Linked DNA regions of Homo sapiens. The protein of the gene in region 1 purifies or fractionates together with the protein of each later gene. This does not show direct contact. Each region holds a gene or a part of one and is shown in the gene's direction. Other genes may lie near its edges.

Region 1 (7,025 bases):
AAATTTCAATTTTTTTCTCTGTGAGGTTTTGTGCAGATTTCGCCCTATTATATGCTTTTTGACAAACTGTTATATTTGTCAGAAAAGCTATCACTGCAGAATAATTTTCTCACCATGTTTTCTGACTTCCCTTTGCCGCCCCTGAAGCTTGCGACCCACTTGTCCTAATGTTAGTTGATTTATGTTCAAGGAATGAAAGTTGATTTTTAGGCCAATCGATTTAGGCTCCTTATATTAAACAGAATTTAGTAAATCAAGCAAATTTGCCATCAGCTTTTCTCTTTCTTCTTCAGCCCCTTCCCCTGGTCAGTTCTAATAATTATATCACTGGCTTTAAAGTTAATCACCATTTTTAGAGATCTTTTGAGACCTTTGCTAGAGGGAAAGGTTTTCCCTTTAGAGATCAGGAGAACATATCATTTGATATTTTGTAATCAGGAAAGGAGAAGTTGAGTATGTTTAGGATTTATTTAGAGATGGGGTCTCACTCTGTCACCCAGACTGGAGTGCAGTAGCACGGTCAGGGCTCACTGCAGCCTCGACCTCCTGGGCTCAAGCTATTCTCCTGCCTCAGTCACCTGAGTAGCTGGAATTACAGACATGTACCATCATGCTTGGTAATTTTTTGTATTTTTAGTAGAGACAGGGTTTTGCCATGTTGCCCAGGCTGGTCTCAAACTCCTGGACTCAAGTGATCTGCCCGCCTTGGCCTCCTAAAGTGCTAGGATTATGGGCATGAGCCACCACACCTGGCCAATTTAAATATATTTCTTTTTTTTTTTTTCTTGTTTGTTTCCATGCTAGTGAATACTATCTTATGGGGCATGGTGGGGAGGCAAGAATGAGGGTTAAAATAAATAGCCTTCTCCTTCCCTGCCTGTTTTAATGCTTGTAGAAATGGTGCGGGAAAGCCCGTTTAACCAGGGGAGGTTGAAGCATATATTCTGAAAGGAAATACAAGAAGGACTTCATGCTGGATTAAGGAAGTCACTTCTTAAATCAGTAGCTGTGGGCTGAAGCACTGATTACTCAACTCCTTTTTCTTGATGAGGTTCTCAGTACAGGTGCGAAGAGGGAGTGGTGAGAAAGGGTATACTAGAAACAGGTCTTAGAAACCTTAGTTCTTTGTATACTATCTCTGTAAGGCACGGTATAATGCATATTGAAGCATTTCTTTTTCAGGAAGATGAGTGTGCAGGCTGTACGGATGGAACCTTCAGAGGCACTCGGTATTTCACCTGTGCCCTGAAGAAGGCGCTGTTTGTGAAACTGAAGAGCTGCAGGCCTGACTCTAGGTTTGCATCATTGCAGCCGGTTTCCAATCAGATTGAGCGCTGTAACTCTTTAGGTATTTGGATGCTTTTTGTTTACTTAACAACCTGGAATGACTCTAATTCTAATCTCATATCATGTTATATTAGGTGATGGTGACAGTGTTTTAATATATTTCTTGCCAACGCTCATTAAGCTTTAAATCAGTAAAAATGTTGCATGGTGTATAAGAAAGTTGTTTTAAGAGGGGACATCTTAAAAAAGTATTAGGACGTGCGTTTGGGACTTATAAAGTGAATAATAGTGTGGTTTGTTTTTCTCTTCCTGTTGATGACAGACATTTAGTTTTCAGCAATACTAGTGGTAGAAATTGAAATGTAACCTTCTTTTTTTTTTTTACTGACTTCCCTCACAGTGTCTTGTTTACAGCAGTGAGTGTATCTTACAAAGAAATCAGCATTTTAGTGTAAGAAGTAGATTTCAACTGATTGCTGGAGGACAGCTCTCCTCATCATGTGTAATTGGTGGCAGTTTCCTGGTGCTGTTCCTTTCCACTTCTACATAATAGTGGAAAAGCATCTTGGGGCTTCAGCAGGTGCAAACAGGAAAGCCATCTTTATGAAAAACACTCTTATTATGTTGAAATAGTACTTTGGAATTTTCATTTTCTTTTCAAACTTGAAAGTGAAGCAACTTCAGATAAATAGTGAAATATTTGGGAAACATATTTTACTTGACAGATGCTTTTTACACATAATACTCTAAAGTGTGTTTTTAAATCTTGGAGGAAATGAAGTTGAAAATGAACAATAGCAATTTTTATAAGCCAAGTCAAATAGCAGTTAACCAAAGCCTACTTTCCACTTAAAGAAAAAATTTTGCATCAAAATACAAAAACATTTTAAAATGAAAAAATATTTATGGGAATACATATTGTAATAGTTTAAAAGAATTCTTTTCATTTACTTTTTTTAAAAAAATCTTTTCAGCATTTGGAGGCTACTTAAGTGAAGTAGTAGAAGAAAATACTCCACCAAAAATGGAAAAAGAAGGCTTGGAGATAATGATTGGGAAGAAGAAAGGCATCCAGGGTCATTACAATTCTTGTTACTTAGACTCAACCTTATTCTGGTAAGTTTAAAAAGAATGCAATAGGTATAGATAGTGCCATGAGGCAGGGACACATACCGGTGTGTGTGTGTGTGTGCGTGTGAGTGTGTGTGAAAGAAACTGCCATCTGCCTCTGAGTAGAGAAACTGGATGACTGTGGGTCAGGATTGAAAGGGAGATTTGCTTTTTATGACATACTCCTTTTAAGCTTTTGAATGTTGTCTCATGTTTCTGTGTCCAGAAAGGTGAATGATATTGGTACAATGGAATAGATATACAGAGGGTATCTGGGAAATCTTTGTGCATGTCTCAAACAACATAACTTGCAGTAAAGCCATTGGCTGTTATGTGCTGTATTTCTTTTAGTAGGTAAAGGCAGTCATAAAACTACTGTCTTTAAAAAAACGATTTTCAGTAGCAGCACTGCTGCCCTCATATATGCAATTTTTTCCAAAGTGGAACAACTTAAGATTTTTTTTTTTTTTTTTTTTTTTTTTGAGACAGAGTCTCACTCTGTCCCCCAGGCTGGAATGCAGCGGCACAATCTGGGCTCATTGCAACCTCTGCCTCCCAGGTTCAAGCGATTCTCTTGACTCAGCCTCCTGAGTAGCTGGGATTACAGGTGTGAACCACCACTTCTGGCTAACTTTCTTTTTTGTATTTTCAGTAGAGACGGGGGTTTCACCACGTTGGCCAGGCTGGTCTCGAACGTCTCACCTCAAATGATCTACCCGCCTTGGCCTCCCAAAGTGCTTGGGATTACGGGCATGAGCCACCACGCCCAGCCTTAACATTGCAAGGATCTTTAAGCTCTGGAAATTGAACCAAGAATCTTTAGGCTCTGAGGATTGTAGACTGGGCTAAATTGAGAGTAGCCTGCCAGTTCTGTAGCCATATGATAAGAATTAGGAAGTTAATATGGGATGTTAACATTTTTAAAGTAGGAAGAAGAATAAAGTGGCGGCCATTTTATTTGCAGAATACTTTGACAAAAACAAACCTTGTAGCATTGATATAATATTCTTTAGATTTCCTGATAAAAATCTATATTAGCTAAATTTTCTTTTTCTTTGATAACAGCAAGTTACTGCTGTCACTCGTTTATTTTTTTGAGAAGGAGTCTCGCTGTGTCGCCCAGGCTGGAATGCAGTGACGTGATCTCGGCTCACTGGAACCTCCACCTCCCGGGTTCAAGCGATTCTCCTATCTCAGCCTCCCAAGTAGCTGGGACTTCAGGTGCACTCCATCATGCCTGGCTAATTTTTGTATTTTTAGTAGAGACGGGGTTTCACCATATTGGTCAGGCTGGTCTCAAACTCCTGACCTCAGGTGATTCACCCGTCTCGGCCTCCCAAAGTTCTGGGATTGCAGGCATGAGCCACCGCACCTGGCCTGTTAGTCACTCATAAGTGATTTTAGCATTTAAAGAAATTTATTAATGTAATAGATCTTTGCAAAGGGGCATGGGGAGAGGGAAGTGGGGCACTGAATAGTGCTTGCCTCGGGAAGTCGTTTCCAAATGCTGTCCTCTGTTGTCTGTTTGTAATTTGACTGATATTTGTAGTCTCTCTATCAACTTTTGCAAAGAAGTTTTCTTTCTTAATATTCTGTTGGCACGTTGTTATCCTTTAACACTGCCAATCTGCCGTTTGCTTTCTCAGTATTATTGGTGTTGTCCTTAACATGGAAGGATCTGTAGGTCCTGATGATTGAACCATGGGTATCTTCACAGGGGTCCTGGTACCTGTGTTAATGAAAAACACAAATTGTTATGTTATTTGTTCTCCAGACTTTACTTATTTTCCTCTTCTAATTCTGTTAAAAATCTGTTTCTTGAAAAATATGTTTACAGCATGAAGAAAATTATCCTTTTTCTTTTGCAGCTTATTTGCTTTTAGTTCTGTTCTGGACACTGTGTTACTTAGACCCAAAGAAAAGAACGATGTAGAATATTATAGTGAAACCCAAGAGCTACTGAGGACAGAAATTGTTAATCCTCTGAGAATGTAAGTAGAAAACAAATTGCTATTTTGCCTTTACATGGTGTTCTATTTGCTGTTTTCTGGTATAGTAATTAATTTATACCTTGTCTTCATGTAATAAGAGATGGGTGAAAATTAGTTCTTATGGTAAAATATTACGTTTTTAAACCTTTGGTCCTTGTACTTTTTTGCTTATTTAATTTCTTAAATGTGGCCAAGGTGTAGAACATAGCATATTCCATGAAATGATTTAACCTATTTTGCTAGAGTAAACTATAATTTAGCAATTGCAGTATGTTTAGGAAAGCTAATACATAATACTTAGGATTCTTATCTTTTGAAATAGTTTATTCCAACACTTCTGCTACAAGTAATCATGCTTATTAGTTAAATTGGTGTAGTCTAGCTTCTTAAATCTGAAAGAAAAGGAGAAAGGGAAATTCTTTATAGAATAGCTAGTGTTTAATACTTTGGACTAGCAACAGATGAGATGTATTTTAGTACCATATTTTTTGGTTAAAGGAATATATTTGGCCTCTTTCCACCTGCCTTAAAAAGGTGATTCTTTTTCCATTTCCTACTTTAGGAATTATAAATATGTCTTTTTATGGCCACAGGAAGCAATTTGTAATGGTACAAGCACAAGTGACAGGAGATATCTAGTAAAGACTTTGAATAAGTGGTAGTAGTGATATGTGATAATGTCACATTATAAAATTTAAACTATGAAGAATTAGGACCATAGATCATAAAACAAATTTGTTCATTCAGGAATATAGAGAGAAAGTGATTTATTTAAAGTCCATATTAAGATAAATTTGAATCCTTTTATATACTGTTCTTATTTATCAATTAAAGTAAAAAATAGTTTGATATCAAATTTGAACCAAAAAAGCAGAATACTCAAATACAATGAGGATTCCAAATTATCTGCTATATCACATGACTAGGAAAGTAAATTATAAGAGAATAAATTTCCTCACTTATATCTTTTGCTTTCTTTAAATTCTGTAATGATTTCTCTAATGATCTTACTCTTTAAGATAATTGTGAATCTTGATTTTCACATCAACTATTTTGTCTTATGCAAATTTTTAAACATACGATTTTTTTCCCCCAAGTAATTGATACTGGAACAAGACAGGTCAAACCCGAAACTCTAAGGCATGTTAACACCTCCTTCCTAGAAGAGAGGAAGAATAAACATTCTTTGGATCCTATTGTTCAGCCAGTTAAGAATCATAGTTAATCACACTTTCTTACCCTGTCCACGGTAAGAAACTGGTCAGATGCCCTGTTGTGATCAGGATTCCCTGTGTCTGTAGCATTCATATCTGTATATAGCTGACTGGTTTTATTTGGTGCTGAAATCTCTGCTTTTCTTCAGAGACCCTGTCTTTTTAACCTTACTCATTTTGTATTCCCAGTGGCTGACAGGTTACGTTACTATGTAAGTGGTAGATTCTCAGTCTGTATTGGTTGCAGGAAACTAATGAGTGAATGAATAGTATAAAAAGTGGATATAAAATTAGCTAGTTCTGACTTGTCCTTAGTAAACTTATGGTAGCCGCCAAGTTCTCCTCTGAAGCCATTTTTAGAATTACAAATTTAAAGTGATATTAAACTGATTGAATGTGTCTTGCATTCAGACAAAGAAGAGAGAAAATGTCATCATTATGCCAATTGGTTTGATTGCAGATTTTAGATTTTCAGTTTCTTATAAATTCCCTTTCCCATTTCCCTTGGTGGCTGTTTCACACTTCAGTATTAAAAGGATATTCTCTCTCAAAATTGTATATTCTGCTTTATAAAGTAAATGCTTTAATTTCCCAAGCAAATATTATTTAAAAAATCAGTCACAGCAAACCTAAAAATTTTTTATCTTAGTGTATGACAGTTACTTGTAGAGCATATAATAGTGTCTAGGATAATTCTGGTTCTAGATCTTTAATTTTGCAAACTTCAAGAAGAAGCTTATCATTGTTTTCTTCAAAAATAATTGTCTAACCTATTGATTTATGACATACTGGAGTTGTATAAGAAATGTGTTGGCCAGGTGTGGTGGCGCACACCTGTAATCCCAGCACTTTGGGAGGCCGAGGTGGGCGGATCACTTGAGGCCAGGAGTTCAAGAGCAGCCTGGCCAACATGGTGAAACCCTGTTTCTACTAAAAATACAAAAATTAGCTGGATGTGGTGGTGCACGCCTGTAATTCCAGCTACTTTGGTGGCTGAGGCATGAGAATCTCTTGAGCCTGGAAGGCGGAGGTTGCAGTGAGCTGAGATCGGGCCACTGCACACTCCAGCCTGAGTGATAGAGTGAGACTCTATCTCAAAAAAAAAAAAGAAAAAAAGAAATATGTGATTAAGATGTGTTATATAATTTAATACATGCCAATATCAATTAATAGTTTTTTACTAACTTAGATATGGATATGTGTGTGCCACAAAAATTATGAAACTGAGGAAAATACTTGAAAAGGTGGAGGCTGCATCAGGATTTACCTCTGAAGAAAAAGGTGACCATCTTAACTTATATGCGTTAAAAATAACTGAAGAGCATATTCACATGTCAAAGTATTAGCTGAAATGTGTGTCTGTGTAGTTGGGGGGTTTTCTTTTAAATTAGAAATTTCTTTTTATGTGATATATGGTTAGCTC
Region 2 (7,025 bases), on another chromosome or scaffold:
TCCCATATCTCTATCAGGTGAAGTAAAAGGTAGGTGATAGTAGTTACTGGCAGTCTAGAATGGAAGTGAGTTAATGTAATATCCAGCATTTTTATCAAATAATACTCACCAACATCACCTTAACTACCTGAACAGCATCTACCAATGATACCCACAGGTGTCCTGGAGATCTTGAAATCATCTCAGGTAGAGGAAGCTTTCAGAACCACAGAGCTTAGTTACATTTTCTTTCAAAAGGCCAAATTCTCCAAAAACGTCCTATGCAAACATCCTCGATTTCTTCCATAGGTTTTATGATAAGATCTGTAGAATGCAAAATATTGGATTAGACATTAAGCAGTATCCAAGTCATGTATAATCCTATGAGCAGAATGTCCTTTTGTTTCCTTCATGTTGGGGATAAAATTTTTTATTAGTATTGCCATATCATTTTATTCATTCATGATTAAGTCAATAAAAATTTCAGCTGGGGCCATGGTTGGCCAGGTGTGGTGGCTTATGCCTGTAATCTCAGCACTTTGGGAGGCTGAGGTGAGTGGATCACTTGAGGCCAGGAGTTCGAGACCAGCCTGGCTAACATGGTAAAACCCTGTCTCTACTAAATAATACAAAAATTAGCCAGGCGTGGTGGCGCATGCCTTTAGCCCCAGCTACTAGGGAGGCTGAGGCAGGAGAATCACTTGAACCCTGGAGACAGACGTTGCAGTGAGCTGAGATCATGCCACTGCACTCCAGCCTGGGCAACAGAGTGAGATTGTGTCTCGAAAAAAAAAAAAAAATTCCACTGGCTGGGCACAGTGGCTCACGCCTGTAATTCCAGCACTTTGGGAGGCCGAGGTGGGAAGATCACGAGGTCAGGAGATTGAGACCATCCTGGCTAACACGGTGAAACCCCGTCTCTACTAAAAATACAAAAAAAAAAAAAAAAAAGCTGGGCATAGTGGCGTGCGCCTGTAATCCCAGCTACTTGGGAGGGTGAGGCAGGAGAATCACTTGAACCCGGGAGGCAGAGGTTGCAGTAAGCCGAGATTGCACCACTGCACTCCAGCCTGGGTGACAGAGCGAGACTGTCGCAAAAAAAAAAAAAAAAAAAAAAAAATTCCAAAACTCTTCCCACTTTGTGACGTGCAGTTCTCCAGGCACTGGAGCTATAACTGAACAAACAGCCTGAGTCCCTTCCCTCACACAGTTTAAATCCTAGTGGACAGAAGGCAGACCCTAAACCAATATTTAATGTGTCATTTTTTATCTTTTTTCTACATGAGCAACCCAAATACACCCGTTTAGTGCCAGAAATCTCTTTGTGTTTTCACCTCGTTCTGGTTCCTGGTTCTGCCAGTGACAGATGTACAGGGATGCAGCTTCTTCAGGGTTCTGAGATGCTTTCAGTGGGAAAGGGGCGCTTGGATCTACAATAGATAATAGAATTTTCTGTGTTTCTGCTCCCAAAGATGATCCTGCCAGGTACTAAGCTAGTAAATGAACACGCTGAGTTTCTCCTTGCAAATTTAAATAAGTCTTCTGCTTGCTTTTATCATCAAAAAGTCCTAACTCTATACCAAAATATGAGTTTTCTAATTTGCCATACCATAGAAGAAGGGTGTGTATGCAGTAAGTACAAAAGGAAAATAAATGTCTTCCTTTCAGTGAAAGAGCTCTTAGACCCACTGCTTTTTATTCACTGTGCTGCTTGAAGTGAGGTTAGAAAAGGAAAGCTCACTGGGCTAAGAGTCAGGAGACCCAGGTCTAGTCCTGCTTGTGCCGGTCACTATATGGGTGACTTTGGGAAAGTCATTTGCCTCTCCAGAGTTCATTCTCCTCAATTATAAATGAAAATGTTACAACTGAAAATTTATATATTATCAGCTCTAGTATGTTTCTAGTATTGCATTCGTTTCTCCACTTCGTAACTTTCATGGTTTTTCCAGTGGTCAGATTTGGGCAGAAAGCACTGATTCAAGAACACAGATTTCCAAGTAGAGAGGTGCAGGGTAAATAAACCTCCATGTAAGCCCGCGGTGAGCGCAGACTGTGAGTGACGAACACGGTGTCAGTGTAAGCTGGAGGTGGTGGGCCAGGAGGATTAAACAGGGTAAGGCAGCTTACCACTGTGCCTGGCGATGCGCAGAGTAAGTGCTCAGTAAACGGTAGCTGCTGTTATTAGCACTGTTATTATCATTGTCAGCAAAGAACACCTAGACAGCCTTGAGCACTGGAAGGCACCTCAGAGACTGTCACAGGGGTTCCTTGCTAGGATTCCAAGGACCCCAGTTTCAGCAGCTTCACGAACACCCTGAATTGCACACAGATGGCGTGTGTGTGCACATCCTATATTTCTTACACCTTTCAGTAGAGAGGGTCCCTAGTTTCCTTGGCTTCCTCAGAGAAAATGTAACAAATGAGCACAGTGCCTGGTCCAGAGGGTGGCCTACCTTAGGGCCAGGTGTGCTGACGGAGGTACCTTGAGCTGATACTCATTTCCCTCCCTCCTCAGAACTGTCTTCTCAACCACCTTCTCTCTCCTACAAAGATATGCCAAGTGCTCTTTAGGGACAGTACCAACACTTGACAAATTCAGCTCAGCATGAATGTCATTGAGCCCATGCCCCGTACCAAGGCCCAGGCTAGCGAGTGTAAGGAGTACAAAAACAAGTGGGTGTGGTCGCTGCCCTTGGGACTCACATTCTAGTGGAGAAGTCAAACAGACCCAGCTCAGATACAGAGCGGCGCAGGGCAGAGTGCTGAGTCTAGGATTACAGTGCAGGCTCATGGAAGGAGGTGGAATTTGTGCTGGGCCTATGTCAGAAACTCACAAGCAGGGAGAAGCACGTGGGGAGGTCAGCAGTCCAGGCAGAGGCAGGAGCATCATGTCAGCAGATCGGTGGGAAATCTGGTGGGACTGGAGTCTCTGGAGTGGAGACAGGGAGGAAACAGTGAAAGGAAGATCAGAGACAAGAGGGTAGGGCAGAGCTGTGGCTAGCTTCTGAATACTGAACCTGAGAGGTTTGAGTTTATCAGGTAAAGGAGGAGGACCCTTCACAGATGCTGTTCAGAGTCGTGGGATCCCGCTGGGAAGTGTGGCTGAGCTTTGCTGTGTTGTTCATCCACTTCTGTTTTCTGACTTGGTGTTAGCCACATTTTTTTATGGTAAAATTCAAAAACATAAAATTTACCATTTCAACCATTTTTACAGTGGCATTATCTAACATTCACAGTGTTATGCAACCATCACCACCATCTATCTATATAACTGTTTTAATCTTGCAAAACTAAAACTCTGTATCCATTAAACACCAACTCCCCAGCTCCCCTCCCAGCCCCGGACAACCACCATTCTACTCTCTGTTTCTGTGACTCTGACCAGTCTAGGTACCTCATGTGAGTGGAACCATGCAGCATTTTTCTTTGTGGCTGGCTTCATTCACTTAGGAAATGTCCTCAAGCTTCATGCATGTTGTAGCATGTGATGTGATTCCCTTCCTTTTCAAGGCTGACTATTCCATTGTGTAGCTAGACCACAGTTGGGTTATCCACTCATCTGCTCATGGGTGCCTGGCTTACTTCCACCTTTTAGCTATTGTGAATAATGCTGCAGTGAACACGTGGGTAGAAATATTTCTTCAACACCCTGTTTTAGTTCTTTTGGGTATATACTCAGAAACGGAATTGCTGGATCATATGGTAATTCTATCTTTAATTTTTTTGAAGAATCACGATTTTTTTTTTTTTTTTTTTTTGAGACAGACTCTCACTCTATCACCAGGCTGGAGTGCAGTGGCACGATCTTGGCTCACTCTGCAAGCTCCGCCTCCTGGGTTCAAGTGATTCTCCTGCCTCAGCCTCCTGAGTAGCTGGGATTACAGGCACCCACCACCACGCCTGGCTAATTTTTGTATTTTTAGTAGAGAAGGGGTTTCACCATGTTGGCCAGGCTGGTCTTGAACTCCTGACCTCAGGTGATCACCTGCATCAGCCTCCCAAAGTGCTGGGATTACAGGTGTGAGCCACCGCACCTGGCCCACTATACTCTTTATAGGAGCAGCTGCACCATTTCACATTCCCACCAGCAGTGCACAAGGGCTTCATTTTTTCCACATCTTTGTCAATATGTGTTATTTCTTTTTTTTTTTTTAATCATAGGCATCCTAATGGGTATGAGGTGGTTTAGCCAGATTTGAAAGAAGAAAAGTTTAAAGGGTGGCATAGGATAATTAACTTAATGTTTGGCATAAAGCCCTGCTTTTTTGCCATGCTGTATTTTTTTCTCTTGCTTTTGATCTAGAATTACTTACCTGTGTGTTTCTCTCTATGCAGATGAATCTATAAAATATACCATATACAATAGTACTGGCATTCAGATTGGAGCCTACAATTATATGGAGATTGGTGGGACGAGTTCATCACTACTAGACAGCACAAATACGAACTTCAAAGAAGAGCCAGCTGCTAAGTACCAAGCTATCTTTGGTAAGATACCCTGGAAGGACTCAACGCCTAGCAACCTTGAACTTTCTTACTTGTGAGAAGGACATAGTGGAATCTTAAAATTTCTCTGATAATTCTTCTTGAAAGTTTTCTTATGTTACTTCTGCAAAATATCTTTGTAATTTCCATATAATTCCTTTGTCATTTATTTATTTTTAATATGGAGATAATCACAGTATTTAATTTATGGATTTGTTGTGAAAATTAAATGAGTTGATATGTATAAAAAGCTTAGAACACTGCCTGGCACATAGTAAGTTCTATAAAAAGTGTTAAACTTTCATCATCATCATCATCAGTATTACTTCTCAGACCCAGAAGAAATAGCTGTGTCAGGCCCTCATCGAAGGAGATCCTGTAAAAGATAGAAGACTGTGCCCTCCACAGCACTTCTGTAATAAAATCAAGAGGGCTATCTCTTATAGGGTTCTATGGTGCAGCCCATAATGCTAATCCCAAAGTACAGTCTGGAAAAAGTCATGAGGCCAAAACGACTTGATTAAGAACTCAGCTTTCTAATTAACCATGGGATTGGCGCTTTTTTTTTTTTTTTCTGTAAAGGAACCAATAGTAAATGTTAGGCCCTGCTGGCTTTGAGGTCTCTTGGAACTACTCACCTCTCTTATTGTAGTGCAAAAGCAACCACAGACAATATGTACATGAATGAGCACGGCTGTGTTCCAATAAAAGTGGATTTACAAATGCTGGCAGGAGTCAGATTTGGCCCACAGGCCATAGTTGGCCAACCCCTGGTCTAACCCATTTGAAGGACAGCTTTTAAAATACCTAGAACAGAACTTGCGAATGGTCAGGGGCACCTGTGAGAATCTAATGAAACCCAGGATCTACCCCCTACAGAAATATTGACAAAATTTGGAAAATATCTTGGGAAGTTCTTGGACTGCTGACAATCTATAAGATATGGATAGAGAGAGAGCCACATCACAGAGGGCTGAGGAAAGAAGAGAGGTGGGAAGGAAGAATGAAATGTTTTCTTCCTTATATTCTGTTTAATGAGGTAGTGTGGGGATTAAGGAATTTTTTTTGTTGTGGTTGTTGTACATTTTCATTTGTTTCCTTTTATTATTTTTATGAAGGGCGAAGGGAAGGAACCAGTAGAAGGAGAGAGGTTATGGCTATTGGAGAAGAGGCAATGTCGGTCGGCAGTGGGGTGGAGTAAAGGAGGGGTTAGGGTCCAAAAACAGACCTTGAAGAGTATAGTTACCTCGTCGCTTGAAAGACAAGGAAGGCTTTGTAACTGAATGGGTTCACGCCTGCTGGACAATTCCTTGATTAAGTAAGAGGAAAGTGAACTGTTGGGCCGGGGTGGTGGTCAGGAGTTGAGCGGCTTTAACTCTGGCCAGATGTAAGCGGAGAATGTCTAAAAGGAACAAAAATGGTGGTTTTCCCTTTACACCCAGGAAGGTCTAATACCAACAGGATCACTGGCTAAGATTGACTAGAACACCCAACCTCGTAGCCACACAGGGGTTTTGTTCACAGAGCCATCAGCTGTGGCTCAGGGATGTGTCTACTAGGAGGAAGGAATGCCTTATTCTTTTTTGTTTTGTTTTTGAGACAACATCCTGCTCTGTGGCCCAGGCTGAAGTACAGGGGCACAGTCATGGCTCACTGCAGCCTCGAACTCCTGAGTTCAAGTGATCCTCCTGTCTCAGCCTCCTCAGTAACTGGGACTACAGGCATGTGCCACCATACCCAGCTAATTAAAAAAAATTTTTTTTTTGGTAGAGACAGGTTCTTGCTGTGTTGCCCAGGACTGGTCTAGAACTCCCGGGTTCAAGTGATCCTCCTGCCTTGGCCTCCCAAAGTGTTGGGATTATAGGCATGAGCCACCACGCCAGGCCGGGAATGCCCTATTCTAATTCACATAAAGACTCCATGTGGGCTAGCAGGCATGTGAAATGTCTGCCAGTGCATCAACAGCTATATAACTAAGAAGTTATCTTTTTCACTGTCTTCTGGTACTCTTCATTTCACTTGGGTTTTTTAGCAATTCAGGAAGCTGGAATGTTTGAATGGGTTTTAGCTTGATACCTTCTTCTTTTTCCCATTTGGCAGATAATACCACTAGTCTGACGGATAAACACCTGGACCCAATCAGGGAAAATCTGGGAAAGCACTGGAAAAACTGTGCCCGTAAACTGGGCTTCACACAGTCTCAGATTGATGAAATTGACCATGACTATGAGCGAGATGGACTGAAAGAAAAGGTTTACCAGATGCTCCAAAAGTGGGTGATGAGGGAAGGCATAAAGGGAGCCACGGTGGGGAAGCTGGCCCAGGCGCTCCACCAGTGTTCCAGGATCGACCTTCTGAGCAGCTTGATTTACGTCAGCCAGAACTAACCCTGGATGGGCTACGGCAGCTGAAGTGGACGCCTCACTTAGTGGATAACCCCAGAAAGTTGGCTGCCTCAGAGCATTCAGAATTCTGTCCTCACTGATAGGGGTTCTGTGTCTGCAGAAATTTTGTTTCCTGTACTTCATAGCTGGAGAATGGGGAAAGAAATCTGCAGCAAA
Region 3 (7,401 bases), on another chromosome or scaffold:
AGGCTGGTCTTGAACTCCTGGCCTCAAGTTATCCTCCCACTTTGGCTTCCCAAAGTGCTGGAGATTACAGGCATGAGCCACCGTTGTCTGGCCAGAAAGTCAGTTCTTTAATGGTACCAACCATGTGCCAAGTGCAAAAAAAAAAAAAAAACCCTACAAAACACACATGGAGGCCAGGTGCAACAGCTCATGCCTGTAAGCCCAGCACTTTGGGAGGCCGAGGTTGGTGGATCACCTGAAGTTGGGAGTTCAATACTGACCTGGTCAACATGATGAAATCCTGTTTCCACTAAAAATACAAAAAAATTAGCCAGGTGTGGTAGCAGGCGGTCCCAGCTACTTGGGAGGCTGAGGCACAAGAATCACTTGAACCCAGGAGGCGGAGGTTGCAGTGAGCCGAGATCAAACCACTGCACTCCAGCCTGGGCGACAGTGCAATATTTCATCTCAAAATAATAATAATAATAATAATAATAATAATAATAATAATAATAATAATAAATAAAAATATAAATATAGGTCGGACGCTGCAGCTCACGCCTGTAATCCCAGCACTTTGGGAGGCCAAGGCAGGCAGATCACGAGGTCAGGAGATAGAGACCATCTTGGCTAACACAGTGAAACCCCGTCTCTACTAAAAATACATGAAAAAATTAGCCGGGTGTGGTGGTGGGCGCCTGTATTCCCAGCTACTCGGGAGGCTGAGGCAGGAGAATGGCGTGAACCAGGGAGATGGAGCTCGCAGTGAGCCGAGATCACACCACTGCACTCCAGCCTGGACGACAGAACAAGACTCCATCTCAAAACAAAACAAAACAAAGCAAAAAATATATATATAAACATTAGCCAGGCGTGGTGGTGCATGCCTGTAGTTCCAGCTACTCAGGAGGCTGAGGCAGAAGAATCGCTTAAACCCAGGAGGCAGAGGTTGCTGTGAGCTAAGATCACACCACTGCACTCCAGCCTTGGCAAAAGAGTGAGACTCTGTCTTAAAAAAAAAAACAAACAGAAAAAAACAAAGAGAGAAAACCCCATGGAGCCAGGGGCTACTGAATTGGACGGTGCTGATATGGAACATGCCCATTATCGTGGGAAGCTCTTCTGGACAGCACTGCGGCAGACAATGAAGAATGTAACTATTTGTTCAGTGCTCTCACCTCTTTTGGGTCCCTCTGCGAATGACAGCTCTTCAGCCTTCCCAACCATCCTCTTTCAAACAGCAACCCCCACATTCCCCATGCTCTTTCCCCAATTTACTTTTCTTCTTAGCCTGTTCACCACTTGACATGGAAATCACTTGGTTTCTCTTCTGACTCCCCATCTAGCACTGCACAGTCTGATGCAGTAGCCACTGGTAACGCGTGATGGTTGAGCCCTTGAAATGTAGCCAGTCCGACTGGAGATGTGCGGTGCTGTGCTGTGCTGTGGAGTATAAGATACATACTAGATTTCAAAAGCAGGCAGGGGCCAGGCGCGGTGGCTCACGCCTGTAATCCCAGCACTATGGGAGGCCAGGGCGGGTGGATCACTTAAGGTAAGGAGTTCGAGGCCAGCCTGGGCAACATGGTGAAACTCTGTCTCTACTAAAAACACAAAAAATTACCCGGGCATGGTGGCAAATGTCTGTAATCGCAGCTACTCGGGAGGCTGAGGCAGGAGAATCGCTTGAACCCGGGATGGGGAGGTTGCAGTTAGCCGAGATCCCGCCACTGCACTCCAGCCTTGGCAACAGAGTGAGACTCTGTCTCAAAAAAATAAGAAAAAAAAAGCATGCAGGAAAGAAAAAGGACACAAAGTATCTTCTATTTTGGAAAGATAACAGATGCAAAACATCCTGTATTTTAAAATATTGACTACATGTTTAAATAATAACATATTCAACCTACTGAGTTAAATAAAACACATTACAACTAACATCACCCGTTTCTTTTTACTTATTTTTAAACATGGCTAACAATGTACCAATTTAAATTACATACCTCGCTGACAAATCTGTGGCTTGCTTATACTGTTTTTTTGAGATGTAATTTCCCTCTTTCACCTAGGCTGGAGTGCAGTGGCGGGATCTCGGCTCACTGCAACCTCCACTTTCCAGTTTCAAGCGATTCTCCTGCCTCAGCCTCCCGAGTAGCTGGGATTACAGGCTCCTGCCACCACGTCCAGCTAATTTTTGTATTTTTAGTAGAGACTGGGGTTTCAACATGTTGGCCAGGCTGGTCTCGAACTACTGACCTGGTGATCTGCCCGCCTCGGCCTCCCAAAGTGCTGGGATTACAGGCGTGACCTACTGTGCCTGGCCTGCTTTGTTTATACTTCTATTGCACCGTGATGACCCAGAATGCTGGCTACTATAAAATTTAACAATTAAATGTTAAATTTAACATTTAATTGAGCTAGGTGTGGTGGCACGTGCCTATAATCCCAGCTACTTGGGAGCCTGAGGCAGAAGGACTGCTTGAGGTCAGGAGTTAAACCTGTGGGATGATTGCACCTGTGAACAGCCACTGCACTCCAGCCTGGGCAACACAGTGAGACCCAATCTCTAAAAAGCTTTCCTAGGCCGGGTGGTGGCTCATGCCTGTAATCCCAGCACTTTGGGAGGCCGAGGTGGGTGGATCACTTGAGGCCAGGAGTTTGAGACCAGCCTGGCCAACATGGCAAAACCCCATCTCTACTAAAACCACAAGAATTAGCTGGGTGTGATGTTGCACGCCTGTGATCCCAGCTACTTGGGAGGCTGAGGCACGAGAATCACTTGAATAGGGAGGCAGAGGTTGCAGTGAGCTGAGATCACACCACTGCATTCCAGCCTGCACAGCAGAGTGAGACCCTGTCTCCAAAAAAAAAAAAAAAAAAAAAAAAAACTTCTAAGAAAATATGATTAAAAAAAGAAACAGGCTGGGCACCGTGGCTCCCGCCTGTAATCCCAACACTTTGGGAGGCCAAAGCAGGAGGATCACTTAAGTCTAGAAGTTTGAGACCAGCCTAGGCAATACAGCAAGACCTCATCGCTACAAAAAAATAAAACATTAGCCAGGCATAGTGGCACATCCTGTAGTCTAAGCTACTCAGGAATCTGAAGCCGGAGGATTGATTGCCTGAGCTGGGGAAGTTGAGGCTGCAGTTAGCTGTGATCATACCACCGCACTCCAAATTGGGTGACAGAGTGAGATCCTGTCTCAAAAAAAAAAAAAAAAAAAGAAAAACAAAATTGTAGGCCAGGCGCAGTGGCTCAAGCCTGTAATCCCAGCACTTTGGGAGGCTGAGGCGGGCAGATCACGAGGTCAAGAGATACAGATCATCATGGCCAACACGGTGAAACCCCGTCTCTACTAAAAATACAAAAATTAGCTGGTTGTGGTGGCGCAGCGCCTGTAGGCCCAACTACTTAGGAGGCTGAGGCAGGAGAATCGCTTGAACCTGGGAAGCGGAGGTTGCAGTGAGCGGAGATCACGCCACTGCACTCCAGCCTGGCGACAGAGCGAGTCTCCGTCTCAAATAAATAAATAAATAAATAAAAATAAAAAGACTATTATTTTCAGATCATAAAAAAAAAAAAGAAAAAATTAGGCAGAGTGCAGGCATGCCTGTAATCCCAGCTCTTTGGGAGGCGGAGGCAGGAGAATCGCTTGAGTCCAGGAGTTCGAGACCAGCCTGGGCAACAGAACCAGAGCCCATCTTTACATAAAAAAAAATTAAACATGTAGCTTGCATGTATTTCTACTAGGGCATTCTAGGCCAGCGCTGGTTTAGAATGTTAGCCCAATAAGACCAGGTATTTTTTTTCTGCTCACTGCCCATACAGTGATTGACACACAGTAGGCGCTCAATGACATTTTAATGAATGAATGAGATGCTGAGCCTTCGGGAACTGGCTTGCTCAAAGAGCCAGCACCGATGAAGCGCTGACCACGTTCCATGCCCCGCCTCCTCAGCGCACCAGAGAAGGAAACTGAGGCCCGGCAAGGTGACGTCAGCTCCTGCCCAACGGCACGTAGTGCGGAAACGTCGGGGCCGGGATTCGAACCCAGGTTCTGTACCCGTAACCCCGGCGCGCTGACCTTTCCTACCTTACCGGGCGGCGGCAGGACAGACAGGTGCGGGACACACGGCGAGCGCTCAACCAGAGGCGCCGCTCCTCAGCCACCGCCTTCCGTCAGCCTCCGAGGGCCGGAACCCAGTTCGCCCCCTCCGCGGCCATCGCTGGCTGCCCGCGTCTCCGCCGGCCGCGGAGCACTTCGCAGGCGGCGCCGACCGGAAGTCCCGCCTCTCCCGCGCGCCCCGGAGCGCCGCGACAGCTACGCCGGCCAATGAGCAGCGCGCCGTGGCGGACGTCGGCCAATGGGCTCGCGCGCGGGGGGGGCGTGTCCGGGCCGCGGGCCGGAGCGGGTCGTGCGCGCTGAGGAGGAGCCGCTGCCGCCGTCGCCGTCGCCGCCACCGCCGCCACCGCTACCGAGGCCGAGCGGAGCCGTTAGCGCCGCGCCGCCGCCGCCTCCCGCCCGCCCCGGAGCAGCCCCGGGCCCGCCCGCCCGCATCCAGGTGAGGCGGTGGGGGGCCTTCGGCGGCGCCCGACGGGGTAGGCCGCGGCAGGCCTGAGCTCGCCTGGCCTGGCCGCGGGGCGCCCGCGGGCCTGCACCGGCCGAGGCCCAGGCCGCGCCGGACCGGGGGAGGGGACGCGCGCTGGGGCCGCGGCGGGCGGGTCGGGGCGGGCCGGTGTGGGCGCCGGCTACAGGCCCCGGGGCCGGATTCCTCTGGCGCCTCGAGGGACGGGCGAGGGGGATACGGCGTGGGCATGCGCCGGGGGGCCGGGCTGCACGGCCGGGGGCCCCGGTCGCCTTGGAAGCCCGGGCTCCGGGGGCGGGAGAGTGGGGCCAGCTACGGGGGAGCGCCGGGAACGCTTTGAGCGCGCAGAGGTCACGGCCCACGGGCTTGCTCCCCCGGGAAATCCCACAGATTCTTTTGTGGTCGTTGTCAGAGCACCGCGGCCGGTGCGAGGTCCTTTGAGAAGTGTGCAAACCCTTCAGTAGATACACGGGAGTCCTGGGGGAAAAAAAAAATCTAAACTGCATCTTTTTTTGAGCGCCATCTCTAACAAAGCTGTTTGTGGGGCGTGGGACGTTAGGATTTGTAAAATATGTGTGTGTGCCTGTTGGAAACACAAGCTGCACACAGTTGAACAATGGGGGATGGATGCCCTTCCTTCCTTTTCCGGTGCTCTGGGCTGCGGGGCTTGTTAAAATGGGTTTTGGTCCCTACTGTGTGCAGGGCAGGTGGAGAAGAACTTCTGCACAACTTCTGCATGGGCTTCCCGTGGTGGGACTGAGCCCCCTTGCTAGAAAGTGTTCATCTAAGATCCGGATGGCCAGAAATGGGAAGATGAGGAGAATGATCTGTCTAGAGCAGGGTTTCTCGACGTTGGCCCTACTGATGTTTGGGGTCAGATAGTTTTTGGTTGTGGTGGTAGTGGGGGCTTCCCTGTGCAATGTAGGAAGTTGAGCCGTATTCCTGGCCTCTACCCACTAGATGCCAGCAGTATCCCCATGCTCCAAGTCGTGAGGATCAAAAGTATCTCCAAACATTGCCAGATGGCTCGGGTTGCGGGGGAGGGGTCTCTTCCACTCTCACACGCACAGGTGAGAACCATTACTGAACTAAATGCTCTTCCTCCAAAAGTTCTAATGCCCTGGGAGATGCTCCCAAGACCTCGAACAAGCTTGACTCTGTTGAGCCTTAGTTTTCTTATCTATAAAATGGGAAGGACAAAAGTGTGGTGCAAATTGAAGAGGGTGGAAATCCCGTTGCGTTGTGCGTGGTCTGTGCCTGGTAGGCACTGAATAAATGATGTTGTACATAGCCACCAGTATTTATTGAGGATTTACTATGTGCTTGACACTTTGTGGACGTTTGTCTGCAGTCCTTGAGGCAGGTGATGTTATAATTTCCATTAATTTCCATTTTAGAGATGAAGAAACTGAGGCTTAGATGGGTCACTTGATGTGACCAGTCTCATGCACTAAAGTGGCTGCGCCAGGGTTTGAACTCGGGCCCTCTGATTCAAAACCCTTACTCTTAACCACTCGATTGTACTGCTCCTATAATCACAAGGCTCCAGGGCACTCCAGTTGTCATCGAATATTTTCTGTGTGCAAAGTTCTGTGCTGGGATCTATTATCAAATTCTGCAACTTCGAGGCCCACAAAGAGGTTGAGATACACGAACGTCTCAAATGTGGAAGGAAATAATACTGTTTATGTTGATGCATTGGTTTTGAGCAGACAGAGTTTCAGTCTGGATGTGTTGAGTCTGAGATCATGGTGCTATTTCTTTTTTTTTTTTTTTTTTGAGACGGAGTCTCACTCTGCCGCCCAGGCTGGAGTGCAGTGGTGCGATCTCGGCTCACTGCAAGCTCCGCCTCCCGGGTTCACGCCATTCTTCTGCCTCAGCCTCCCGAGTAGCTGGGACTACAGGCGCCGGCTACCACGCCCGACTAATTTTTTGTACTTTTAGTAGAGACGGGGTTTCACCGTGTTAGCCAGGATGGTCTCGATCTCCTGACCTTGTGATCCGCCCGCCTCGGCCTCCCAAAGTGCTGGGATTACAGGCGTGAGCCACCGCGCCCGGACCATGGTGCTATTTCTTTTTTTTTTTTTTTCTTTTTCTTTTTTTTTTTTTTTTTTTGAGACAGTTTCACCCTTGTTGCCCAGGCTGGAGTGCAGTTGTGCCATCTCAGCTCACTGCAACCTCAGCCTCCCAAGTAGCTGGGATTACAGGCAGCCGCCACCACGTCCAGCTAATTTTTTGCATTTTTAGTAGAGGTGGGATTTCGCCTTGTTGAGCAGGCTGGTCTCGAACTCCTGACCTCAGGTGATCCACCCGCCTTGGCCTCCTAAAGTCCTGGGATTACAGGTGTGAGCCACCGCGCCCAGCCCATGGTGCTATTTCAAGTAAAAGAAATGAGAGAATTATGAAAAAACTTTATGAAAATTTCTTGCCTCTCTCACTCTCCGCTTCCCATCTCTTCCCTCTTTCCACACTCCAGCAGGAGTTCTGTTCTGTAAATGCACATCTAATTGTATCCCTTCTGATTTAAAATCTTTGTGCAGAAAAAAGACACGTTTTCTTGACCTCTCTGGTGGCTTAAAAGATAAAGCTAGAAGCCCTTAGTTTGGAGTGCCAGTTCCTTCACACCCTAACCCTCCCCGCCCCTGCACGTAGACCCCAAACTCTAACCCTCCCTGCCTGTTGCAGCCTCCACCTGGAGACAGATCTCTTCCACCTGGAGATCCTTTGCTTATGCTCCATGGCTCAGCCCAGAGCTCACTGGCCGTTTGAAGCCTCGTCTGACTGCCACTCTTCCTCCACCCGCACCGGAATCAACTGTTCCCTCCTTAGTGTTCCCAT
Region 4 (7,025 bases), on another chromosome or scaffold:
GTCCCGTATATGAAATAGTACAAGAAAGTGGGGAAGAAAGGCCGGGCGGGGTGGCTCACGCCTGTAATCCCAGCACCTTGGGAGGTCGAGGCGGGTGGATCACCTGAGGTCGGGAGTTCAAGACCAGCCTGGCCAACATGGTGAAACCCTGTCTCTACAAAAATAAAAAAATTATCCGGGCATAGCTACTGAGGAGGTTGAGGTGGAAGAATCACTTGAACCCGGGAGGTGAAGGTTGTAGTGAACCAGGATTATGGCATTACACTACAGCCTGGGCAACAGAGCGAGACTCTTGTCTCCAAAAAAAAAAAAAAGAGGCCAGGTGCGGTGGCTCATGCCTGTAATCCCAGTACTTTGGGAGGCCAAGGCGGGTGGATCACCTGAAGTCAGAAGTTCGAGACCAGCCTGACCAACATGGAGAAACCCCGTCTGTAGTAAAAATACAAAATTAGCCGGGGGTGGTGGGTGCCTGTAATCCCAGCTACTTGGGAGGCGGAGGCAGGAGAATCACTTGAACCCGGGAGGCCGAGGTTGCGGTGAGCCGAGATTGCGCCATTGCACTCCATCCTGGGCAACAGCAACAATAAAAAACGGGGAATATAGAGGGGAAAAGTTTACCCGTTTTTGGGGAGCAGAGGGGTAACATAAACTACATTTGGGCTTGTGGGGCTGTTGTTGGTTTTGTCCTTTCCTAGTCTCTTCCCTATCAAGATTGGCTTCATGGAAGGTAGGATGAAGTTTTGATGGTCATGTTGGATTCCCTAGGAATGCATCTGTTGAGTCATTTACTTGAGAGCTGTCTTTTTTTTCTTTTGAGACGGAGTCTCGCTCTGTCTCCCAGGCTTTATTGAAGTGGCACAATCTCGGCCCACTGCAACCTCCGCCTCCAGGGTTCAAGCGATTCTCCTGCCTCACCCTCCCGAGTAGCTGGGACTACAGGCATGTGCCACCATGCCATGCTAATTTTGTATTTCTTTTTTAGTAGAGACACGGTTTCTCCATGTTGGTCAGGCTGGTCTCGAACTCCCGACCTCAGGTGATCCGCCCACCTCAGTCTCCCAAAGTGCTGACATTAAGGACCTGAGCCACCGCGCCTGGTCAAGAGCTGTCTTTTTTTTGAGACGGAGTCTTGCTCTTGTCGCCCAGGCTGTAGTGCAATAGCGCGATCTCGGCTCACTGCAACCTCCATCCCCTGGGTTCAAGCGATTCTCCTGCCTCAGCCTCCAAGAGTAGCTGGGATTACAGGCATCCGCCACTATGCCAGGCTAATTTTGTATTTTTAGTAGAGATGGGGTTTCGCCATGTTGGCCAGGCTGATCTCGAACTCCTGACCTCAGGTGATCCGCCCGCCTCGGCCTCCCAGAGTGCTGGGGTTACAGGCGTGAGCCACTGAGCCCGCTGAGAGCTGTCCTTTTAAAACACCAGATCCTCATCTCTAGCTAGCTTATTCTGCTAGTTAGTGAAGAACAGGGAAGGGAGCATGTGTGGAATGAACTTTTTACTACGGTCTTGTTAGGAAAAAAATAGGTAGTAGTAAATTAACGTTGTTAATAAGTTTAGAAGTATTTAGATTAACTACCAGTTCTTTGACTGTAGGCCAGTAATTTTCCATTGCCGTTTCAGTTAATGGACTAACTTTCTGGAGTAAAGTTTATTTTTCTCCTTCTTAAATGCATAGACAGAACTGAGTAACGTAGTGTTAAAAATCCCTTCTACGACTGGGCTCTGTCCCCCAGGCTGGAGTGCAATGGCGTGGTCTTGGCTCACTGCAACCTCCGCCTCCCAGGTTCAAGCGGTTCTCCTGGCTCAGCCTCCCAAGTAGCTGGGACTACAGGCGCGTGCCACCACACTCGGCTAATTTTTTGTATTTTTAGTAGAGACGAGGTTTCACCATGTTGGCCAGGATGGTCTTTATCTCCTGATCTCAGGTGATCTGCCCACCTCAGCCTCCCAAACTGCTGGGATTACAGGTGTGAGCCACCGCACCCAGCCAATTTTTGTGTTTTTGGTAGAGACAGGGTTTTACCATGTTTGCCAGGCTGGTCTTGAACTCCTGACCTCAGGTGATCTGCCTGCCTCGGCCTCCCAAAGTGTTGGAATTACAGGCGTGAGCCACCACACCCGGCCTGATTGTTTTTTTTTTTCATGGATGACTGTAAGGGTGACTGATACTGCAGGCATATTTTTTCTTTATATTTCAAGAACACTGTGTACACAAACAGTAATGACAAGCATGGAGTAAAGGCTGCAGTTTTATTTTTATTTATTTTTTTGAGACAGTCTTGCTCTGTCACCTAGGGTGGAGTGTAGTGGTAGGATCTCGGCTCACTGCAGCCTCTGCCCCCTGGGTTCAAGCGATTCTCCTGCCTCTGCTTCCCGAGTAGCTGGGACTACAGGCGCCCGCCATCGCACCTGGCTAATTTTTGTATTTTTAGTAGAGATGGGGTTTCACCATGTTTGCCAGGCTGATCTCTGACTCCTGACCTCAGGTGATCCTCCCGCCTCAGCCTCCCAAAGGGCTAGCATTACAGGTATGAGCCACTGTACCTGGCCTAAATTTTTAATTTTTTAATGGGCACATATTAGGTGTATGTATTTATGGGAAGGCTAAATTAAAAAAAAATTTTTTTTTGAAACAGGGTCTTGCTTTGTGACCCAGGCTGAAGTGCAGTGTCGCCATTATAGCTTACTGCAGGCTCGACCTCCTGAGTTCCAGTGACCCTCCTGCCTCAGCTTCCCTAGTAGCTGGGACTGTTGCACCGGCCTAATTTTTGTGTTTTTTTTTTTTTTTTTTTTTTTTTGTGGATTTGAGGTCTCTATGTTGCCCAGGCTGGTCTTGAATTCCTGGACTCCCACCTTGGCCTCCCAAAGTGCTGGGATTACAGGTGTGAGTCACTGCTTCTGGCCTAAACTTTACATATGTGTATATGACATTATGCAGTACCTCAGTTCACAGCCCACGTTGACAAAAGTTTTTAATTTATGTAACAAGATTGAAGCAGGTAGAGCGTTACTCCCATTTTCTGGTTCAAGAAAGTGAGTTTGAGAGAGAGATTTTTTTATGATCATGTGGCTAATCAGTTATTAAATGGTAAAGCCAGAACTTAGTGTCTGCTGACCTTTAGATCGGTACACTTACTCTCAGCCACTCAAAAGACCTCTGTGAAGTAAGGTGGTGCCTTTCAGGGGAGTAGGGGGTGAGTAGCGTATGCTTGATGCTTGTTCTTTAACAATTCTAATAGCATCTACTTCACATCTTGATGTTTGTGATGACTGATATCCATGGTGAATTGTAGACAAAATCTTTTCACTTTCCTAAAGAAACCTGATGGTTTTTTTCAGAGATAAAATCCCATCTCAAGGCACAGCGAAATTAAAATGAGGTGAAGTTTAGGTACTCTCAGAATGTTTATTCGCATACAGATTCTTAAAAAACATGATTTATTGTAGGCAGATGTCACCTCTTTAAGCAAAAGAAAAAAACAACCAAAAAAAGAAAAGCCCCAGCCGGGTTCCGCGGCTCAAACACCTGCAATCCCAGCACTGTGGGAGGCCGAGGTGGGCGGATCACCTGAGGTCAGGAGTTTGAGACCATCCTGACCAACATGGTGAAAACCAGTCTCTACTAAAAATACAAAAATTAGCTGGCCTGTGATGGCTTGTGCCTTTAGTCCCAGCTACTGAGGAGGCTGAGGTGGGAAATCGCTTGACCCTGGGAGGTGGAGATTGCAGTGAGCCCACATCGCACCATTGCACTCCAGTCTGGGCCACAGAGGGAGAGCCTGTCTCAAGAAAAGAAAAGCCCCGTAGTTTATCATAATGTCTGTACTGGGATATGGCTGATGCTATGCATTTCTGTAAAGTAGCTTTAAAATATTTTCTCCTCTCACTTTTATCTTTTTCCTTTTTTTTTTTTTGAGACAGGGTCTCACTTGGTCACCCAGGCTGTAGTGCAGTGGTGCGATCTTGGCTCACTGCAGCCTCTACCTTCCAGTCTCAGGTGATCCCCCCACCTCAGCCTCTTAAGTAGCTGTTTTTTTTGTTTGTTTGTATGTTTTTAAATTTTATTTATTTATTTATTTATTTATTTATTTATTTATTTTTTGGAGAGATGGAGTCTTGCTCTGTCACCCAGGCTGGAGTGCTGGAGTACAGTGGCGCGATCCACCACTCCCAGCTAATTTCTTTTGTGTTTTAGTAGAGATGGGGTTTCACCATGTTGCCCAGGCTGGTCTTGGAATTCCTGGACTCAAGCAATCTGTCAGACTTGGCCTCCCAAAGTGCTGGGATTATAGGCGTGAGCCACCACCCCCGGCCACCTTTGTCTTAGTGAATGCTATTAAGTTGTTAGGTTAGTGATGTAGTCATACAACTTTTTTTTTTTTTTGAGATGGATTTTCCCTCTTGTCATTCAGGCTGGAGTGCAGTGGCGTGATCTTGGCTCACTGCAGCCTCCGCCTCCTGGGCTCAAGTGATTCTCCTGCCTCAGCCTCCCGAGTAGCTGAGACTACAGACTTGGGCCATCATGCTTGGCTAATTTTTGTATTTTTAGTAGAGACAGAGTTTCACCATATTAGCCAGGCTGGTCTTCAACTCCTGACCTCAGGTAGTCCGCCTGCCTCAGCCTCCCAAAATGCTGGGATTATAGGTGTGAGCCACCGCACCCGGCCAGATATAGACATACAACTTCTAGGAGGGACAAAGGTTGGCATATGATTCACCAGTGTTGTTCCGGGTGGTTGGCTAGATAGCTGTCTAATGGAATCCATTAAGGAGTAGGAAAGAGCAGCAAGAAAAATGGCTATTTTCACTATTTTTGAAATGGTCAGTTAACAGTTTGAGATAGATACATATACTTTTTTGAGACAAGGTCTTGCTTTGTTGGCCAGGCTTGGATTGCATTGATGCAGTAACGATTCACTGCATCCTCAACCTCCCAGGCCCAAATGATCATCCCATCTCAGCCTCCCACTTAGCTGGGCCCACAGCTGTGCACCACAATACCTGGATAATTTAAAAGAACTTTTTTTTCTTTTTCTTTTTCTTTTTTCCCGAGACAAGATCTCAGTATATTACTCAGGCTGGGATGCAGTGTCACATTTATGGCTCACTGCAGCTTTGACCCCCTGGGCACCTCAGCATGCCAAGTAGCTGGGGCTACAGAAGTATACCACCACTTCTGGCTAATTTTTGTAGAGACAGGATTTTACCATGTTGCCCAGGTCTTGAACTCGAGCTCAAGATTCACCTGCCTCGGCCTCCCAAAGTTTTGCGATTACAGGCGTGAGCCACCATGGCTGGCAAAAAAATTTTTTTGGTAGAGGCCTGGTCCCAGCGGATTGCCCAGGCTGATGTTGAACTCCTGAGCTCATGTGATCTTCCCACCAGGTAGCTGGTACCGCCATGACCAGCTAATTAAAACTTTTTTTTTGTGGAGACGGGATCCCACTGTGTTGTCCAGGTAACTCCTGGGTTCAAGCGATCCTCCCACTGTGGCCTCCCCAAAGTGCAGGGATTATAGGCATGAACCACTGCGCCCGGCCAGCTTGATATATTTAGGTATTGATATATCCAAATTGACGAATTGGTTGCCAACAGAACCTCATGGTTCTCTGACTAAATGTTAATGCTAGTCATGGCCCTAAGAACAATTTCAGATGTTCATTTAAATTTATTAAATTGTAGCAAATAATAATGAAAGTCACCATAATTTAACATCCACATGAGTATATCTTGAAAAGACAGACTAATTCATCAGCTACAACAGCAGGCATAAACTGGGATTGTCCTGGGCAACAAACTTGCCTTGTGGTCACCCTACTTAATGGCCATTTGTTACTAGATTTTGTCATTTAGACTCATACAACAGTTTCCTAAACGTTGTCCAGCTTTTTATCACAGAGATAGCTTAGATCTACGTCTCTAGGAGGTTGAATTTTTTTTTTTCAAATGAAGTTAGCCTTTGGCAGAATATAAGTCAAAGGAAAAGTGAAAATTTCCTCCTCCTAGCTCCCTCCCCCACAAATGGGAACGTGCTAGTTAAGGATGTGGTAGTTGCTGAAAATAGAGCTTGCTGGCATTCCAAATCCTCTGATGGTGTCAACACCTAGTGTGTTGGTTTTCTTATGGCTACCTTGAGCCAGTTCTGTGTTTAAAAATATAATAGACCTAGGTGTTGGTAGCAGTGTCCTAAGCTCAGAGCTTTCCCTACATACATTTTATTTTTTTATTTTTACAAGTGTCTTTCATACCAAATACCCACATAAAAATTTAAAGGCTCACCCATATCTTGTTACAACTGTTATGTTTAGAATGCCAAACTGTGTAGTTCAGACCATATGACCATGATCCTGGCTTATCTCTTCTGAAATTTTTATCTTGAATTTATTGCCCTTCCAACAATCTACCATAGTAGCTGGACGGATCTGTTGTTGGTGGGCTTGATTTGTGATCAGATCAGGATTTTATCGAGCTAAAGCAATATGAAATGTGTTTAACTCTTCATTCATATCTAAAGTTTGAAGGAGATGCATTACTGTAAGAGTTATGACAGTATTTCATCATTTGGCAGATGTGGTAAATCTGCCATCACAGAATGCACAGGAATCACTGGGTTCCTTATCTTTCAAATGGGGATTAGTGATGTCTCTCTTGCCTACTAATTTGCAGGGTGGTTATGAAATTTTGGGCTTTTGTAAACTGTAAAGTGTAATACTTGTCGGTACTATTTGTTGTGAAACATTCTTATCTAATGTGAAAGGTCAGATAATTGTTTTTGTTACTGCTGTGCTAGGATCATATTAGATGATAACCTACCTTTTTGAGTTATTCTTAGCAAGTGTAGTCTTCTGGGCTTAGTCCTTATGTAAGATATGCACAAAGAAATATTCTCAAAATCCTTAATCTTACATCTGTAAATTTGCATATCCAAAGTAAAGGTCGTCCAGATTATTCCCAAATAATAATTTTGTCATGTTGAGCTGGTATATAGTTGTTTTGATATTAATTTTAGATTAATAAGAGAC

Evidence for each region.
Region 2: the proteins of CYLD (region 1) and RIPK1 purify together in Homo sapiens (affinity purification with western blotting; 5 studies listed by BioGRID). This does not show direct contact.
Region 3: the proteins of CYLD (region 1) and ELAVL1 purify together in Homo sapiens (affinity purification with mass spectrometry, with the first as the bait; 2 studies listed by BioGRID). This does not show direct contact.
Region 4: the proteins of CYLD (region 1) and YWHAE purify together in Homo sapiens (affinity purification with mass spectrometry; 3 studies listed by BioGRID and IntAct, with this or other methods). This does not show direct contact.

What each region holds. Positions count from the first base shown.
Region 1 is NC_000016.10:50,780,064-50,787,088, forward strand, and holds part of CYLD (ubiquitin carboxyl-terminal hydrolase CYLD), read left to right. Parts: intron 1-1,182; coding exon 1,183-1,348; intron 1,349-2,261; coding exon 2,262-2,403; intron 2,404-3,795; exon of another isoform or gene 3,796-4,126; intron 4,127-4,265; coding exon 4,266-4,388; intron 4,389-6,775; coding exon of another isoform or gene 6,776-6,791; coding exon 6,792-6,883; intron 6,884-7,025. UniProt on the Homo sapiens protein: Deubiquitinase that specifically cleaves 'Lys-63'- and linear 'Met-1'-linked polyubiquitin chains and is involved in NF-kappa-B activation and TNF-alpha-induced necroptosis.
Region 2 is NC_000006.12:3,106,489-3,113,513, forward strand, and holds part of RIPK1 (receptor-interacting serine/threonine-protein kinase 1), read left to right. Parts: exon of another isoform or gene 1-303; intron 304-1,313; exon of another isoform or gene 1,314-1,409; intron 1,410-2,813; exon of another isoform or gene 2,814-2,908; intron 2,909-4,314; coding exon 4,315-4,467; intron 4,468-6,564; coding exon 6,565-6,851; 3' UTR 6,852-7,025. UniProt on the Homo sapiens protein: Serine-threonine kinase which is a key regulator of TNF-mediated apoptosis, necroptosis and inflammatory pathways.
Region 3 is NC_000019.10:8,002,633-8,010,033, reverse strand, and holds the start of ELAVL1 (ELAV-like protein 1), read left to right. Parts: upstream 1-4,392; 5' UTR 4,393-4,539; intron 4,540-7,401. UniProt on the Homo sapiens protein: RNA-binding protein that binds to the 3'-UTR region of mRNAs and increases their stability.
Region 4 is NC_000017.11:1,390,213-1,397,237, reverse strand, and holds part of YWHAE (14-3-3 protein epsilon), read left to right. Parts: intron 1-7,025. UniProt on the Homo sapiens protein: Adapter protein implicated in the regulation of a large spectrum of both general and specialized signaling pathways. Binds to a large number of partners, usually by recognition of a phosphoserine or phosphothreonine motif.